Linked DNA regions of Homo sapiens. The protein of the gene in region 2 purifies or fractionates together with the protein of the main gene of each other region. This does not show direct contact. Each region holds a gene or a part of one and is shown on either strand. Other genes may lie near its edges.

What was found.
Region 1: the proteins of GALK2 (region 2) and GNB4 purify together in Homo sapiens (affinity purification with mass spectrometry; 2 studies listed by BioGRID and IntAct, with this or other methods). This does not show direct contact.
Region 3: the proteins of GALK2 (region 2) and CCDC18 purify together in Homo sapiens (affinity purification with mass spectrometry; 2 studies listed by BioGRID and IntAct, with this or other methods). This does not show direct contact.

The regions. Positions count from the first base shown.
Region 1 is NC_000003.12:179,395,577-179,399,493, reverse strand, and holds the end of GNB4 (guanine nucleotide-binding protein subunit beta-4), read left to right. Parts: 3' UTR 1-3,406; downstream 3,407-3,917. UniProt on the Homo sapiens protein: Guanine nucleotide-binding proteins (G proteins) are involved as a modulator or transducer in various transmembrane signaling systems.
Region 2 is NC_000015.10:49,165,728-49,173,261, forward strand, and holds the start of GALK2 (N-acetylgalactosamine kinase), read left to right. Parts: upstream 1-4,519; 5' UTR 4,520-4,595; coding exon 4,596-4,648; intron 4,649-7,534. UniProt on the Homo sapiens protein: Acts on GalNAc. Also acts as a galactokinase when galactose is present at high concentrations. May be involved in a salvage pathway for the reutilization of free GalNAc derived from the degradation of complex carbohydrates.
Region 3 is NC_000001.11:93,176,433-93,183,734, forward strand, and holds the start of CCDC18 (coiled-coil domain-containing protein 18), read left to right. Parts: upstream 1-4,291; 5' UTR 4,292-4,420; exon of another isoform or gene 4,421-4,450; intron 4,451-6,927; 5' UTR 6,928-6,929; coding exon 6,930-7,063; intron 7,064-7,302. Other genes in the region: TMED5 (transmembrane emp24 domain-containing protein 5 isoform 1 precursor), read right to left, coding at 3,622-3,810.

The DNA of each region.
Region 1 (3,917 bases), on a different chromosome or scaffold from region 2:
GAGTGGCTTACACCTATAATCCCAGCAATTTGGGAGGCCAAGGTGGGCAGATCACTTGAGGTCAGGAGTTCGCGACCAGCCTACCCAACATGGTGAAACCCCATCTCTTCTAAAAATACAAACATTAGCCGGGCGTGGTGGCACATTCCTGTAATCCCAGCTACTCGGGAGGCTGAGGCAGGAGATTCGCCTGAACCCGGGAGGCAGAGGTTGCAGTGAGCCGAGATTGTGCCACTGCACTCCAGCCTAGGCGACAGAGTGAGACTCCATCTCAAATTGGAAAAAAAAAAAATTATATGAACTTTTGCTATTAATGTTTATTTGTAGGCTATTTATATCACTTCATAAAGAACAGTTCTTTGAGAAAAGAATAAAGGAATGTATTCATTTCCAGAAAAAGAGGGTTGGGGAAAGTTTGCCATGTAGGTTAGTCAGAAGAAAGCAATTCTATTATGCATAAAAATAACCTTAAATATGTAAGAGAGTATCTCCTCTACTTAAAAGTTATTATAGTAGTCACAGGCATACAGACCACAGGAATTCTATGGTCTTAACATATTTTAAAATTACATTTATTTTAATGTTCTTAAAGTTTATGAAGAGGAGTTTAAAGCAATTCCCATAATTAAATATTTACTCGGCAACTAAAAACTATTTAACACTTGTGGTTAATTATACACATAAACAAATGGCGACAGAGTAGCCTCACTACCACAATTACTTCATGGTTACACCTTTGCTTTCTAATAATAGGGGCTCCAGTTGCTAAATATATTTGTTTACTTACAGTTTAAGTTGAGCTGATTGTTGAATTCTGTTATTGTTCCTGAATTCAATGAGTATATAATTTGTAGAGATGTTGAATAGTTTGGATCTTAGTTTTTAAGGCTGAAAAATCTGGCTGGATTTAGTTTTTAAAAATTTGCATCATCAAGAATATTGCAGTTAATGTTCCTTTTTTTTTTTTTTTAAAGACAGAGTCTCACTCTGTCACCCAGGCTGGAGTGTACAGTGGTGTGATTTTGGCTCATTGCAACCTCAACCTCTGCCTCCTGGGTTCAAGCAATTCTTGTGCCTCAGCCTCCCAAGTAGCTGGGACTATAGGCATGTGCCACCATGCCCGGCTAATTTTTGTATTTTTAGTAGAGATGGGGTTTCACCATCTTGGCCAGTCTGATCTCGTACTCCTGGCCTCAAGTGATCCACCAGCCTCAGCCTCCCAAAGTGCTGGGATTACAGACGTGAGCCACCGTGCCCAGCCAGGTTTCCTTCTTTACCTTCTAAGAAACATTTAAACATAATGTGCCTGAGAAGGTTAATTTGTTGACTCTGTAGCATGTCAAGAAGAGTAGTTTTTTGAGATCTGGCAAGAATATTTTAGAGATACATATTCTTTTCTAAGTATGTTATCACCCTGTGGTGTTGAGCATATCGTCCCAAAAACCTGCTTCAGCAAGCAGTTCTTGGCCAGGCATGGTGGCTCACACCTGTAATCCCAGCACTTTGGGAGGCCGAGGCAGGTGGATCACGAGGTCAGGAGTTCAAGACCAGCCTGGCCAAGATGGTGAAACCCCATCTCTACTAAAAATACAAAAATTAGCCGGGCGTGGAGGTGGGCGCCTGTCAGCTACTCGTGAGGCTGAGGCAGAGAATTACTTGAACTCAGGAGGTGGAGGTTTTGGTGAGCTGAGATGGCGCCACTGCACTCCAACCCGAGCGACAGAGCAAGATTCCGTCCCAAAAAGAAAAAGCAGTTTTTGCCATCAGCAAGGATATCTCCTCCACTTTAATGGACAGGCCTCATTTTTGGCAGCTATGCTGTTTGAGATGTAGACTGAATATCCAAGGTTCCTCCCTAGCTCAAGTTTTTACTTGTGATTACACACACCACATTGAATTCCGTCTTCAGAGGCAAAGATTTGGGCTTCATATCTCAACAGCAAAAGGGCCTGTTCAGCAATTCCCTTCATTTTAGACTCATATGACCTCAGCGATTGCATGATAGTAGTAAACTAGTCTCCTGGAAATAATGGATGTAGGTGCTTCTAGAATATGTTACAGAATTTCAGACTTAACCTATTAATAGATAAATGGATCTTGACTTAAGGTGACAAAATGAAACTTTTATTATTGCTTAAAAATGCTGTGCCAATATTGTATAACTAGCTCCTCTAATACTTTTGGTATTTTGGATTTAATAATAAGACCTTAAGCATTTTAAATGTGAACATGTTCAGGGAAGTATGCTTTGATGTAAATGTCTCAGATCTAAGTTGTAACACAATTGAATACTTGTGGCTTATTCTTGGTTTAACTTAGGAAAACTGGTTAAACAATCCCCCATTTGGGCCTGTCATCATTTTAATAGTGACGATGTTCTTTCTGAAATCTTCAGGGTCGGAGTCAGGCTGAATTTTTTTAAAAATTAAATATTATGTTCAAATTCTTTCCTTTTTGCCATTGTGAAAAAGCAAAATTTTAAATGATTTCTCCTGTTAGAATTTTTAAAAATACCCACAGGTTGGACCATCTTTCTTATGGGTTGCACAATGAATTTATATTTTAAATTAGATTAAGTAGAATGTGAAGTACATTTCAGATTTACTAGTTTTCTTTCCATTGTTCATTTTGGGTTGCCTCAGATTCAGTGTATATTTTAAAATATTGGTTACATAATAGGTACTCAATGAAATGGTTTATAGTAGAATATCTAAGCTAGCACTTTATTTTAAAAAGTAACTTATTAATTAATCACACATTGATGGTACACCTTGTATTTAGCAAATGTTTGCATGTTGATAAAATCTCCTATGTCTTCTTTCTTAAATCCAGTTGCTGATTTTGTAAAATACAGTTGTGATAAAGCAGCATTACGGGGGGGAAAAAGCTATATTCCAACTGGTGTTAAATGTATTCAACAAAATCTTACATCATACAGTATTTATTTCTTAATTAATAGAACTTCAGTGATATACTTGGTAGATATCTCAAGCCTTTTGTCTTTTACACAATGGTGCTCTATCCTATTGTTTTCTTTTCAAAGAAGCATCTGAACACTTGCATTTCTATTTTCCTATCCAAAGGCATCCACATCTAAGTGTGTTTTTAAAGTTGATTAAAATTATTTTTCTGTTAAAGCATTCTGAAAGTGTTTGTCTTTACCTAGAATGATTTGTACACACTCGTGGTCAACTGAACATGAATGTCAGTAGTAGTCTAATTATGGGAAGGGTAAACGTGTTAGATTAAGGCTCTTAAAGCTCTAAACCATATAAACTATGGACTTGTATCATGATTTAACTGTTCTTAGATCTTTCTTACACAGTGATTCATTCCTCTATTTGTACAGTGGCTTTATGAAATGTTGTGAATTGATACTGTAATCAATAAAGTGCTTTTAACCAGATTTCATTGTATTTTTTTATGCCACAATTTTTTTTTTTTTTTGAGAGTGTTACTCTCTTGCCCAGGCTGGAGTACAGTGGTGTCGTCATGGTTTACTGCAACCTCAGCCTCCCGTGCTCAAGTGATCATCCCACTTCAGCCTCTGGAGTAGATGGGACTATGGGTACGTGCATGCCACTATGCCCAGTTAATTTTTATATTTTTTGTAGAGACAGGGTCTATGTTGCCCAGGCTGGTCTTGAACTCCTGGGCTCAAGAGATCTGCCTGCCCCAGCCTCCTAAAGTGCTGGGATTATAGGCGTGAACTACCATGCCCAGCCAATTTTTTATAAAAAGTTTTTATTGAGACAGGGGTCTTGCTTTGTTGCCCAGGCATGTCTCGAACTCCTGGCTTTAAGGGACCATCCCACCCTGATCTCCCAAACTGCTGGGATTGCAGGCTTGAGCCAACAAGCCTGGCCTCTGTAATTTTTAAATAAGCGATGCTGCCTATGGTGTTGATTAATTAATTA
Region 2 (7,534 bases):
AATTTAAAATGGCATGTTTGACTTGCATTGTAGATTCTGATTCAGTAGGTCTGGGCCCAAGATAATGTATTTCTTTTTTTTTTTTTTTTTATTGAGACGGAGTCTTGCTCTGTCACCCAGGCTGGAGTGCAGTGGTGCCATCTCCGCTCACTGCAAGCTCCGCCTCCCAGGTTCACGCCATTCTCCTGCCTTAGCCTCCCGAGTAGCTGGGACTACAGGCGCCCACCACCACGCCCAGCTAATTTTTTGTATTTTTAGTAGAGATGGGGTTTCACTGTGTTAGCCAGGATGGTCTCGATCTCCCGACCTTGTGATCTGCCCGCCTCGGCCTCCCAAAGTGCTGGAATTACACTGCGCCCGGCCCAAGATAATGTATTTCTAAAAACTTTCAAGTGACGCTGATGCTGCTGTTCTGAGGACCACACTTTGAGTAGAAAAACTTAGACTAGACAGAAAACAAGTAATTAGAGTACTGATGTGATGCTTTGTATGACTGGGCAAGCAGAGGGTGCTTAGAGTCTTCGTTTTGTTTTGCTTTGTTTTTCACTCTGCAAAACAATCTATGTTCGGTTAAAGCATTTTTGCACAATTTTTATTTCCTCCATAACTACATAAATATAGATTTCTCTGATTCATGAGTTTATCTTTTGCCATTTAATGATTATATACACTAGAGAGCAGTATCTATTTTATGAACAGAAGAATAAGGGGCCGGGTGCAGTAGCTCACGCCTGTAATCTCAGCACTTTGGGAGGCCGAGGCAGGTGGATGGCCTCAGTTCAGGAGTTTGAGACCAGCCTGGCCAACATGTTGAAACCCCATCTCTACTAAAAATACAAAAATTAAGTGGCAGGCACCTGTAATCCCAGCTACTCGGGAGGCTGAGGCAGGAGAATCACTTGAACCCGGAAGGCGGAGGTTGCAGTGAGCCGAGATCGCGCCATTGCACTCCAGCCTGGGCAACAAGAGCGAGACTTGGTCTCAACAACAACAACAAAAAAGAAGGAATGTAACATCATTATAAAGAAGACATAAACAAGTATTACATATTATTTACTATAATGAGAAAATATCCAAAATAGGTCACTGAAGTAGATTCTCCCAATTGTGAACAATAGTTTTTATTGTAAGTCAAAATAGGAAATATTTTCCAGAGGTTGCACAAACAGATTAAACCACAGAAATAACATTATTTCAGATAAATGGTCAATCCCTCTGTGGTCTTAGACATTTAGTTTTGGGTAGAGAACATGGAAAACTTCCTGAAGGAAGTGATTTCTAAGCTGAGAAACATCAATAGGCACTAGCCAGGTCTGTAAGTCTCTAACACCCATGCTTTAACTCATATTTTGGATCAAGTTTTTGTATTCTTTCATTTTAGTGTTTGTTTTGTTTTTGTTTAGTTTGCTATAATATTTTATCTGAATGGAGACTAATATCCTTTGAGGAGAAACAATTTCAAGTTTATTAATTAGGTTTCTGTTTAAGACTCCATCATAATATACCATTTATTAGTTTATAATTCAGATTCTAAACCTATTGTAAGAGTGCCTACTTGCAAAAAGCAAAGAACCAGAGGTTCAGGATTTGTGAAAATAAAAATACTGTAAAATATAAATGTTTAAATATTTTCTTTTCTTTTTTTTTGAGATGGAGTTTCGCTCTTGGTTGCCCAGGCTGGAGTGCAGTGGCGTGATTTTGGCTTACTCAATCTCCATCTCCTGGGTTCAAGCGATTCTCCCGCCTCAGCCTCCCAAGCTGCTGGGATTACAGGCGCCCGCCACCACACCTGGCTATATTTTTGTAGTTTTAGTAGAGATGGGGTTTCACCATGTTGGCCAGGCCGTTCTCGAACTCCTGACCTCAGGTGATCTGCCCACCTTGGCCTCCCAAAGTGCTGGGATTATAGGCATGAGCCACTGTGCCCAGCCAAATGTTTAAATGTTTTCACTATTAGATATGTCTAATAAGAACTAAAGGAATATCTTCTTGAAATTGAAAAGGAAATAATATTTTTCTATCCCATAAGGATTGTTGGAAAGGTTTAAAGAGACAATAATATACGCAAAGTGCTTACTTAGCAAGATGCCTAGTATAAGGAAGGTAGTATAAGAAAGTAATGTTTTGTTTTTGGTGTCCATTTGGGGTTCTCTAGTAGTTTGGACAGGTTATTTTAAGAGTAATCCTTTATGAAAATTATAATGTACACATTTTATTTTGGGACAAGGATTCTAATCATTTCAATAATTTATTTTTAAGCACAGTTTACTGGGGTCTCAACAAAAGTCACATATTCAGAAGTAGTATGGCCTCTAGGCTAGGAGTCTAGAGACCTAGGTTTTAGTTCTAGCTCTGTTAATCCTGTTTTACTTTGTGCCAATCATTTCAAAAAAGGATGCTTTACTAATTGCTCTGTAAGGTGCTTTCTAGTCTGCATCGGTTTTGTTGAGACTGCAATAGCAATGTATCCAAGGTCCAAACTAATGATTTGCCATCTGGTTTCATTTAGCAAAGTTAATGTTCGGTCATCAAGTACATATTCAGTAGGAAGTATTCTTTTTCGAAACAGTTTCTACAGTCATTTTTTTTTAACCCTGTATAAAATGAGTTTATTTTGGACTGTTAAAAAAATTCAAAACTTTAAAATTTGTTATTTTTCAACTAATGCAAAAGAATATATTAGAAACATCTGAATAAAAAATGATTCTGGGCTGGGCACGGTGGCTCACACCTTTAATCCCAGAATTTTGGAAGGCCGAGGTGGGCTGATCACCTGAGGTCAGGAGCTCGAGACCAGCCTGCCCAGCATGGTGAAACCCCGTCTTTACTAAAAATACAAAAATTAGCTGGTGTGGTGGCGGCTGCCTGTATTCCCAGCTACTTGGGAGGCTGAGACGGGAGAATCGTTTGAACCTGGGAGGTGGAGGTTGTAGTGAACAGAGATCATGCCATTGCACTCCAGCCTGGGCAACAAAGAGCGAAACTCCATCTAAAAAAAAAAAAAAAGATTCTGTTCTTTTCTGTATTTACTGATGTCCCTAAACATTTTACATTTTTTTTTAAAATTTAGGTTATCTCCCTATTAAAACTATTTACAAGTGACAGTGATGACTCCTGTTACTCAAAATTAAACCAAAATGAACATCAAACTGGGATTTATTGGGGCCCAGAAACAAGAAGATATAATTCATTCATTTGAAAATGATAAAGAGGGACTGAAATAATAGTGAGAAAGCTGCCCTGAGACCAGAGTAACTTTGTTTCTTTGATGTATCATTTACAGTAATAACCCAACGGGGTGCCAAGGGGCTGCCACTCTTTGGCTATGCTTTATTGTCCATTCACACTTTGTCTCCATGTTTCCTTCCCCCTTCCTCCTGTATACATGTATACAGAAGGGGGAAGGAAACATGGAGACAAAGTATGCATATACATATAGAAATTCTGGAGCAGTAACTTACTGATGTATACAACTTATCGAATCTCTCTGAGTTATGCTACTACCCCTAGTGTGTTGGGCATGTTGGCTCAAACTTCCTTAATCAGGAAACTTTGGAATGGGTTTATTGCTAGCTGTCTTTGCTTGGGTTTAATCTCAATATTTCTGAGGTGCAAAGTGCACTAGATTGAGAGTTAATAGATCTGAATTTTAATTCCAGTTTTGTTCCCAATGATCACTGTGACCTCAGGCACATCATTTCACCTTTCGTCGTTCATTCAGTTTATCTTACCTATTCATTAAAAACCAATCTGCCTGCCCCCAGTTGCTTTCTAGTGGTAGTGATGATGGAGGTGGTGAGAGACACAATAAATACATAAGCAAATAGGAGAACTATGAAGGAAGGAAAAGTTAGTGATGTACTAGGGATAGTGTACTTTTGATAGGGCATCTAGGATTTCTCTAGATAAGTGAAAAATGAAGAGGTTTAACTGGATGCTAAGGGGTCTTGCACATTAAAAGGCATGTGTTTCCGTCTTTTCACTACTGTGTTCTAGGAAGGCCCACCAATGCCTCTAACCTGTAAATAAATGCAAATCTATTTAAATCAAGTGATACATCAATTTTATGTTGCTTGATTTGGAAGTAATCCGCAAAGAAGCAATAGCTAAACATTTTAGTGTTGTTTGGGGAGTAGCTGCTGAACAATAAAGACCAAAACCATAACTAAAAAACAAACAAACAAACAAAAAAACGCAGCCCGAGACAGATCAGAAACTAGGTGTATGTAGGGCGCCAGGTTATGACACTGTTCTCTGACATCCACAGGGCGCAAAAAGAAAACCTCACTAGTCAGCTTCGCACGTGCTCTGCGCAGGGGCTCCTGCGAGGCCCTAGTCCCTCCCTGGGAGCTAAGAGCAGGACGGAGGCTGTACCTGACTGCTGCTTGGAGGGAACCCTGGCTGAGTCCAGGGAGGAGGAGCCAGAGGAGGGGCCGATTGGAAGCAGCCACCTCAGCGAAGCTGCAGGATTTCCGCAGGGCGGGAGCTGTTTATCTCCCGGAAGAAAACGGCTCCTGTCACAGAAGTCTCGTGATTGCTCTGGGAGCTTTGCTTAGACACTTGAAACTACAGGAGAAAGAAGGATCTAGCGAAATATGGCTACAGAGAGCCCTGCTACGCGTCGGGTCCAGGTGGCAGAACATCCTAGGTGGGGGAGAGGAGACGCCGGGCTTTGGGATCTGCTGGGTTGGCTACGTGTAGATCGGGTCCACAGCACTTGGCTCCTCCCTTGGGGCGCTGCTTTTGGTCCCGGGGAGCAAGTGGAACCCTTGGGATTCTATAAGGACACGTGGCTGGGCTTGCAAAAAAGATCACGCCGCAAACACATTCTACCTTGACTACTACGAAGGGTTGTATGTTTTTTTCTTCATCCATGCAGATTCTTCTTTTCCTTTTCTTGTTGTAATTAGTGTACTCTTTCTACTGGGCTTCAGCAGAAATGCCCATATCCACACTGAACTCCTCTCTTTGTCTCGCATGCCAGTTGATACTGCTTTTTAAAAGTCTTCTTTCTAAATATTAATTGAAAACAAACACAAAAACCTTCTTGGTGTCTGCATCCTCTTTAAAACAAAACAAAACAAAAACACGAGAATCTCTGAACTGTCACTTAGGGAATTAATTTGCTGGCAGTCCCTAGCTACACAGTAACTAATAGTTTAGTGATGTCTCGGGGAGGATCTTTTCAGTTACAGGTACTTTGTAGAAATACTTCGTTCTGACTAATGGGGCTGAGGTCTCATAAAATGAAGTCTGTCACCTGCTACATTAGCGAAGGGCTTTCCTGACTCTCTGCTTTTGCTGTTTTTCTTTTCTTTTCTTTCTTCCTTCCTTTCTTTTTTCTTTTTCTTTTTCTTTTTTTTTTTTTTTTTGAGACGGAGTTTTGCTCTTGTTGCCCAGGCTGGAGTGCAGTGGCGCCATCTTGGCTCACCGCAACCTCCGCCTCCCAGGTTCAAGCGATTCTCCTGTCTCAGCCTCCTGAGTAGGTGGGATTACAGGCAGGCGTCACCACACCCGGCTAATTTTGTATTTTCATCAGAGATGGGGTTTCTCTATGTTGGTCAGGCTGGTCTCGAGCTCCTGAGCTCAAGTGATCCGCTCACCCTGGCCTCCCAAAGTGCTGGGATTACAGACGTGAGCCATCGCGCCCGGCCCTCTGCCTTTGCTGTTTTCAGTTTTTTTCTGTTAGTTTTTTTCTCTGGCATCAAGTCCTTAAGCTCTTCCTACTTGGTGGTTTATTACCACCGTGTGTCAGTTGATGATATTATACTTTACTACAACTTGAAAATGTTCTTTCATCCTTAAACCAGCAAACAGTGTGTCTTTAGTTACCAGAAAGAAGCATGATTTCTTATTATAGAGTCCAGCACAGCTTTGGACTACTTCTCAATGTCTTTGAATGTTTTAATATACTCTAGAGGTTCTTGTATAGCACTGTTGCCCTTATATATTTGAATTAATTAAGACACACTGTTAAAGGCATGCTTCCAATAAGATTAATGAGAAATTTGTTACATGAAAATAACTTGATCTCTTGTAGTTTAGTCTTATTTTTTTTTTTTGAGACAGAGTCTTGTTCTGTTGCCCAGGCTGGAGTATAGTGGCGCAGTCTCCGCTCACTGCAACCTCCACCTCCCAGGTTCAATCCATTCTCCTGCCTTAGCCTCCAGAGTAGCTGGGATTACAAGTGCCCGCCACCACGCCCCGTTATTTTTTTGTGTTTTTGGTAGAGACGGAGTTTCGCCATGTTGGCCAGGCTGGTCTCCAACTTGTGACCTCAAGTGATCCGCCCGTCTCAGCCTCCCAAATTGCTGGGATTACAGGCGTGAGCCACCGTGCCACGTCTATAGTTTAATCTTCTACATAAAACATACCCATGTGTAAATTCCTAATGTGTTTCCATTTTATGTGATTGTAATAATAAAGATCAACATTTCTATCTATATTTACCCTGTTTGGGGGAGGATGGTGGTAACAAGTATAGGTACATGTACTAAAAGTGAAGAATTGTTTACTGAATTTCCTTAGTGTTCTTCTTGCTTTTCATGATTTTTATATTATTCATGTAACAAATATTTATTGTTAATATTTATTCTGTGTTATCCACAGAAGAGATCATAGTAGATAAGCTCTGCCGTTTTCTTGTTTTTCATTTGTGCACAAAATGCAATTATTAGCTTCAAGCAATGTTTTATTTGCAGGAATGTTTTGCAGCCACTTACTCATTCTAGGAGGGATGTATTTTATTAAATCTAAATAGTATAATCTATAAATTCACCTAACCGGTCAAGTATTGCAATATGCTGAGAAGGAAAAAAAATGAATGAATGGTCAGCCTGCTTTCTTGTGGAACTCTTATTCTTTTTCCAGGATGCCTCTTCAACCTCACAAGGCACATGATCCTTTGAGTAAAGGCACTGGTCAACCATATCATACATTTTAGTAAAACTTAATTTTATTTTTATTATTTTTATGTAAAAATCAAATAGAAATTGAAGTTCTAATATTTTCTTTCTGTGTCCCACTCTTGCATGGTACCGGTACCGTAAGACTCTGAATTTCACTGTTCTGGCTTTCTTTGCATTCTTAGCAGTTGTATCTCTTATCTTTACTTTCTCTTTTGGATTAAGTTTTAAAACTTGTTGGATTATTGCTATTTTTGTAGCAGTTTTATTGACATTCACGTATCATATAACTAATTCATTTAAAGTTTGCAATTAAATGGGTTTAATGTATTCATAGAGCTATGCAACCATCACCATAATCAAATTTAGAACGTTTTCTTAGAAAGAACCCAGCCATCCCTTAGATTATCACACCCCAGAACTCCATTCCCTTTCCCCTCACCTAGCCTTAAACAACTACTGCTCTGTTTTCTGTATTTATAGATTTAGTCACTTTGGGCATTTCAAATGAATGGAATCATATAAAATGTGTGTTTTTTTGGTGACTGGCTTCTTCCATGTGGCATAATGTTCTGAAGGTTCATGTATCAGTACATCATTTAACATGTATCAGTATATCATTCCTTTTT
Region 3 (7,302 bases), on a different chromosome or scaffold from region 2:
CCTAGTAAATATTTTGACATGTATTTGTGTAATAATTTGATTAATTAATACTTGATTGTATGAGGGCACAGACTATACACACACACACACACACAAACATATATATATATATTTTTTTGAGGCAGGGTCTCGCTCTTGTCACCGAGGCTGGAGTACAGTGGTGTGATCACAGCTCACCATAGCCTCAACCTCCTGGGCTCAAGTGATCCTCCCACCTCAGCCTCCCAAGTAGCTGGAACCACAAGTGTGTGCTACCATGCCTGGCTAACTTTATTTTTGGTAGAGATGGGGTCTTGCTATGTTGTCCAGGCTGGTGTGAAACGCCTGTGCTTGAGTGATCCTCCCACCTTGGCCTCCCAAACTGTTGGGATTACAGGTGTGAGCCACTGCACCTAGCTGATATTTTCACTCACCATTGTATCCCTAGCAACTTGGATAGTGCTGACACATATCAAGCACGCAAGAATGACTTAAATTTCTAAATGGATTATCTATTTTAGTCATAAGATACATGAATTGGCATTAAAGTTTTCAAGAACCTCTATCAATATAATGTGAGGCTAGTCAATTATCCAAAAAGTATTCTCCTAAAACCTAAAAAGTAAGAAATTAGTAAAATTTTCAATAAGTAACCAAGGACAAAACTAGATTGTTCTATAAAATTTTAAAAACTAACTTTAAGACAAAAATTAGTAGGATGTAGTTACTGGGAAATTAAACAAGTTGGGAAATACAAACAGGGTGGAAGATGATAGTTACCCTACACATCTCACCAACACTGTCTAGGATTACAGACAAATGATTTTACCTCTTTCCTTAATCAAAACAAATTGTTTAGGGAGAATGTTTTAAAGGAATAGTCCCAGCCGGGCGCGGTGGCTCACACCTATAATCCCAGCACTTTGGAGGCTGAGGCTGGCAGATCACTTGAGATCAGGAGTTTGGGACCAGTCTGGCCAACATAGTGAAACCCCGTCTCTACTAAAAATACAAAAATTAGCTGGGTGTGGTGGCACATGCCTGTAATCCAGCTACTCGGGAAGCTGAGGCGGGAGAATCACTTGAACTCGGGAGATGAAGGTTGCTGTGGGCCAAGGTCGCGCCACTGCACTCCAGCCTGGGTAACAGAGTGACAGAGGGAGACTCTGTCTCAAAAAAAAAAAAAAAAAAAAAAAAAAAGGAACAGTCCCTTTAAGAGTGACTAAAGATGTAAAGAATAAAGCTAAACCAAGCCAGCTACATAACTATAGAGGTATAAATGTAAAATTAACATTCATTGATTATTTACTATGTGTCAGGGATGATCTATGAGCATTTTTTAATAGACTACTTTACACTGAATATGAGCATTTATTAACTCATGCTTTTTCAAATCAACTCTATGATGTAGTTACAATTATTATCTCTATTTTACAAGTGAGAAGATCACATAAGTTTTAAGTAGGCAGAGTCAAGATTTGAACCCAGGCTAAGGTTAAGAGCTGGTGCTCTTAACTATAAGAGGACAGTAGTTAAAATAGATATCTTCCCTAATATGTGTGTAAATACTGAAGATTTTTTTATTAATACAAATTGTTTTCTTATCTAGACTATTTCACTAGCCCTCTAGTTAGTTTCCTTGACTCTAATTTTGCTCTCCTTAAATCCATTTTCCACACTGCATCCAGTGATCTGCTTAAATCTTAAATGGACTTGTACAAAATTAAGGAAAACCTACTCAGCACGGCAAACAAGGCTATGATTCATGCTTAATGACCCCAGCCTTCTGGCCTCTCCGATGTCCTTTTCTGCTACTCCCACCCTAGACTTTATATGTCTTAAAGTCTAATACAAACTCAGTACTTGTAGTGTCCACTACACACTAACCATCCCCACTTACACTATGTATTTTAAGAACTATGGATCTTTTTGTTCGCTTTTCTGAAATGCCCCTTGTTCCTGGCATTTTCGTCTCAATTAAGCATCTTTCTGGATTAAATTTTATTTTCTCCAGGAATCCTCTTCTGAAACCCTTAGAAGTGACCCTCCTCTACTGGTACTTAGCCATCCTTTATTGAAATTACCTGTTTATGAGCCAGTAACCTTTATTAAGCTCTTTGAGAAGAGGGATTCTTTCTTTCTCTTTTACCTACATCCCGCACAACCCAGCTCCCCCTCCGTCTCCCCCACCTCCATGCACAATTCCTGGCACGTGTTAACTGTTCAGTAAATGTTGAACTTTTGAACTTTACTGGAAATCAAGAAACACTGAGTTTTAGCCTCAGTTTTGCTCACTATGTGATTTTAGATATTTTATTCTCTGTGCTTATCGTGTGTATCTATATACAACTTAATCCTAAAGTTCCATCGTATAAAAAATTCTACAACTTTTTATTTTGCTCTGTATGTGACAGTACCTGGTATTTAAAAACAATTCTCTACATCAACTTAAAAAATTAACATTTGATGATTATAATTAACTTCTAAAAAACTGAAAGATGAAACACATCAATGCCTTTTCTTTCCCCCCTGTACTGCTACCTGAAAACATCGGAATTTGCTGTGGAACGAACAAGATTTCTTCTAAGAAATTACCCCCTACCACCATGACTACATAAAATAAGGTAATTCCCAGCAAGAATATTATGCAGATACTAAAAAGAAAACATGCTAGGCATGGTGGCTCACGCCTGTAATCCCAGCACTTTGGGAGGCCGAGGCGGGTGGATCGCCTGAGGTCGGGAGTTCGAGACCAGCCTGGCCAACATGGTGAAACCCCGTCTCTACTAAAAATACAAAAATTAGCTGGGCATGGTGGCGCACGTCTGTAATCTCAGCTACTCGGAAGGCTGAGGCAGGAGAATCGCTTGAACCCGGGAGGCGGAGGTTGCAATGAGCCGAGATAGCGCCACTGCACTCCAACTCTAGCTTGAGCAACAAAGCGAGACTCCGTCTCAAAAAAAAAAAAAAAAAACAATGACACGAGGGAAATGCTTACAATGCTCAATGAAAAAATGAAAAGAAAGGTTATAAAGTTTTAATATACGATTTGATCTTTTGAAAATAATGGATATATAACTTAAACGGAAATGTATCATTAAATATAGCAACAGCGTCTTCCAAAAAATTTCAAAATCGGGCTTAATGCCAATTACACGATCATAATCCAAAAACCCTTAACTGAAGCAAAGACAGTGATTTGTAACATCTGAACTGTGTGAAAGGGGTGGGGGTGATTCAAACAAGTGTCATCACCTTGTCCAATGATGAAGGAGAACGTGTATCAGTTCTGCATTGTGAAATTCTCAGTATGAGAGCGTGTAGTGGCTAAGAAAAGCAGTGGGCGAATTAGGAAACAAAGAGAAAAGCCAGCGACATCACCAGTTCTGGCCTCCTTCCCACCGGAGGAAAGGGGAGAAGGCGGGTAGTCATCAATTCCAGGTCCAGCCTAAGTTCTGGGTCCCCGGCCCCAGCGAGAGCCTCGCCTCGCCTCGCGCGCCTGCGCGGAGCGGGCTGGCTTCCTGAACGGCCCTCGCCTCTTCACCACCAGGGCCGTCCACCAGAAGTTTCTAAACGGGTGAGAGGCGACAACGCAGTGCAGCTGGGTTAAAGGAAGGAGGCTGGTTTATCCTCCGCACTTACTTGGTACTCGATCTCCAGCGAGGCCTTCAGGGGCATGGGCTGGTAGAAGCACTCCTTCTGGCCGGCGGGAAGGGTAAAGGTGAAGTCGCTATCGAGGGAAGGTGTGAAGCCGGCCGCCCCAGGCAGCAGCACCGGAGGCAGAGCGGCCAGAAGGAGCACGGGGAAGGGCAGCCAGATCTTGTCGCCCATCCCTGCTGGGGCGATCCCGGGCTGAAAGAGGCGTCAGGTACTGTTGTCTCCGCTCCGCGTTTCCTCTCTGGACTCCTCGTGGTTGACAGGGAAATCTGGAGTCTGAAGAAACTCCAGGTGGCGGCCGCGGCGGCGGCGAACACTCCCTCCGAAAGAGAAGCGCAGTTCTCCAAAGGGTAGGGACTCTGGGCGGGGCTAGCAGTCCTATTCCGCAACCGCCTCAGTCTCGGCCCCCTCAGGCCAGGCGTGAGCGCCGCCCGCCTCTCCCCCTGACGGCCTCCGGTTCCCATGGCTTCCCCCACCAATGGGCATCATGGCGGTAATTGTGGGAAATGTAGTCCCGGGCGGGCTCCGCTAGTGGGCTCGGGCGCGCTCGCCGACCACGATCCCCGGCAAGCCCCGCGCCTTCGGCGGCGCCTCACGCAGTCTGCGCCGGGGCGGGGCAGTGACCGGGTAGGCGCGTCCCAACGGCTCCCGCGGCGGTTCGAATTCTGTGCTGCCGGGGTTCGCTGGTTCTCCGAGTTGTGTCCGAGGCTTCCACGCGCAGGGGCCCGGGAAAGGGTCAGAGGCTTCCTAACGCAGACTCGAGTGCGAAGCGCGCAGTCGCCGGGTGGGTCTCTCCCCAGCGACGATTTGGGTGGTGAGCGACTGCGCCTTGGCGTGGGGAAACCGGCTTACCTGGGGGAGTTCTGTTCCTTTCCCTCCCGGCACCTTGGATGCGCTGGGACTGGTCCTCGTGGTTGCTGAGCATGCTGCTCTGAACGGTTGTATTTTATTTGATGAAAAATAGGAGGCCGGGCGCAGTGGCTTACGCCTGTTACCTCAGCACTTTGGGATGTCGAGGCGGAAGGATTGCTTGAGCCCAGGAGTTCGAGGCCAGCCTTGGCAATATGGCGAGCCACTGTCTCTATAAAATTAAAAAAAAAAAAAAAAAGAGGAAACTGTCACTTCCGTCCCCCACCCCCGCCCCCGCTTCTTTCAGACGGATGTAAGATTAGCTGTGTCAAGCGATCTTGAGACAGGAGACTACTACATAAAGTTATGACTTCTTTCCAAAATGAGGAATCTTTTTCGACTACAGCCCATTGTATCACATACATAGGGTATAAAAGAACACTTGTCCTTCGTTTGATGGGTGTGCGTGTGCAAACCTACAAACACATTGTTAATTAGGGCCGAAAGATGATGTTGTTAAGGTCGGTGAGTAGGATGATGTGCTTTTCTAGGTATGCATAGTCAGTGAAGATAGCCTTTTTTGGGTAACTACTGTAAATTGAAGTTAAGGACATTCATTTGACAGTAAATGTCCCACTAGGAAAATGAAAACATTTTAGTATCAAATATATTCATTGCTACTGCAGAAGAGTTAGGGAGTTCTTTCTTTTTTTTTTGAGACCGAGTCTCACTCTGTCGCCCAGGCTGGAGTGCAGTGGCGCGATCTCGGCTCACTGCAACCTCCGCCTCCCAGGTTCAAGCAATTCTCTGCCTCAGCCTCCCGAGTAGCTGAGATTACAGGCGCTCGCCACCACCCCCGGCTAATTTTTTTGTATTTTTAGTAGATACGGGGTTTCACCATCTTGGCCAGGTTGGTCTTTAACTTTTGACCTCGTGATCCACCCGCCTTGACCTCCCAAAGTGCTGGGATTACCGGCGTGAGCCACCGCGCCCGGACTGGGAGTTATTTCTTGCATGGCAATACACAGATGTTGAACTAAAACCTGATTTAAGATGAAATATATAGTACCAAATGGTATTATAGAATTTGCCCAATTTTCTCTACCCTTTTCTCCTTCACCATCCTACAGAGAGCTAGAGATGTTGAATAGGTAAAGCAGGATGGGGACCTGATTTATTGACTTGTCTGCGAGAGTCTTGTCACTTAAGCAGAAGCAAATTTGTGGAAACAAAAAAGGGAAAGAGGATAGAACCAGTTTGTCTATTAAGATTACATAGTATCTCATTTAATTTCCTGCCACTTTCTTTCCATAAGGTGGGAGTTTTCTTTTTAATCTTCCTCCCTACATCTGAGAATTTTTGAGTGGGGAATAAATGTAACATACCATTCTAACTGGATGAGGGAAGGAAGGACAGTTTAGTATTCGTTAATTCATTCAAAATATTGAGCTTCTCTAAGTACATTGCGGTCCTGAACGTAATGCACAGGACTTTTAACCTTTTGGAACTTGGGATGGGATCAGAATGCTAAGAAGGGCGTTGAAGGAGATGCTACAGTGAAAAAGGTAAATGGGATCTGAAAGAGGAATGTAATTTTAAGATTGCGCAGAAAGCTCTGTAGTAGTGGAGATTATAAAGCTTTAGTTTTTTATTGTATTAATTACAATAATAAAATGTGATGCTTTATTGTGATTTTTATATGCAAAGAAATTTAGTAGTTTCACAACCCTAGAGATACTCATCCACTGAAGAAACAAAAGCTTTTCTTCATTTCTATGAGTTGACCTGCCAAATGTTATTTTGATCCCTGTGGTTGTGACTTGTAAATGTGTCTTTTTAAAATTTTATAACTATTGGGCGTAGGAGGAGGAGACAGCTTTTATCTGGTAATAAATTCCCTTCTAACAAAATATGAATGTAATGATACCATTTAATCAGATGTCCAGTACTTGTAATGTAATTATGAAAGTTCAAACACCTCATATTGAAATTGATATGTAATATGTAATAAAGCTACAATGCGACATAATTTAATGGTCTTTGCATCCTAATGACTTGGATTCAAATCTTGATTTCACCATTTACAGTTTGTGTGACTTTGAGCAAGTTATTTAATGTCTGATTCTTAGTTTCCTTAACATGTAATGAAAATAATTAACAATTGTTAGGAAGATCAGGTATGCTTACAAAAGAGAACTATAATAACTAGACCCTGGCTAAAATGAAAAATTCATTCATTGAAATTGTATTGAATTCCTTTATGGCTTTACACTACAGATAAATTCATTATTATTGATTTTTTGTTTTGTTTTAAACCACCATGAAAGATTTCACAACATTTAAAATAGAAAACTAATGAGTTAAATTCTATTCATGTGAGTATTTTGACTGAAACTACAGAATCTTTCAGACAAGGTACAAGAAATTCATTTTTTTTTTAAGAAATGGAATCTAGTTCATCAGACTACTATAATAAAGACAATGAAGAGGAAAGTTTGCTTGCAAATGTTGCTTCCTTAAGACATGAACTGAAGATAACAGAATGGAGTTTGCAGAGTTTAGGGGAAGAGTTATCCAGGTAAGTAAGTAAAATCACATATAGAATTCACTGTGCCTTAAATACATCAATGTAAAATGTGTGGATTTCATTATGATGTATTGTTTCTAACCTGCCTCTGGAATAAGAAATAATTTTCTTATACTTTTTAATGTAACTTTCAGTTTAGGGAAAAATAAGGAATATTAGAGAAGCCTCTTTGCATATTAAAAACACTTTCAGTGTATTAGAACTCAGTATAAAATATATATTTTGGGCTT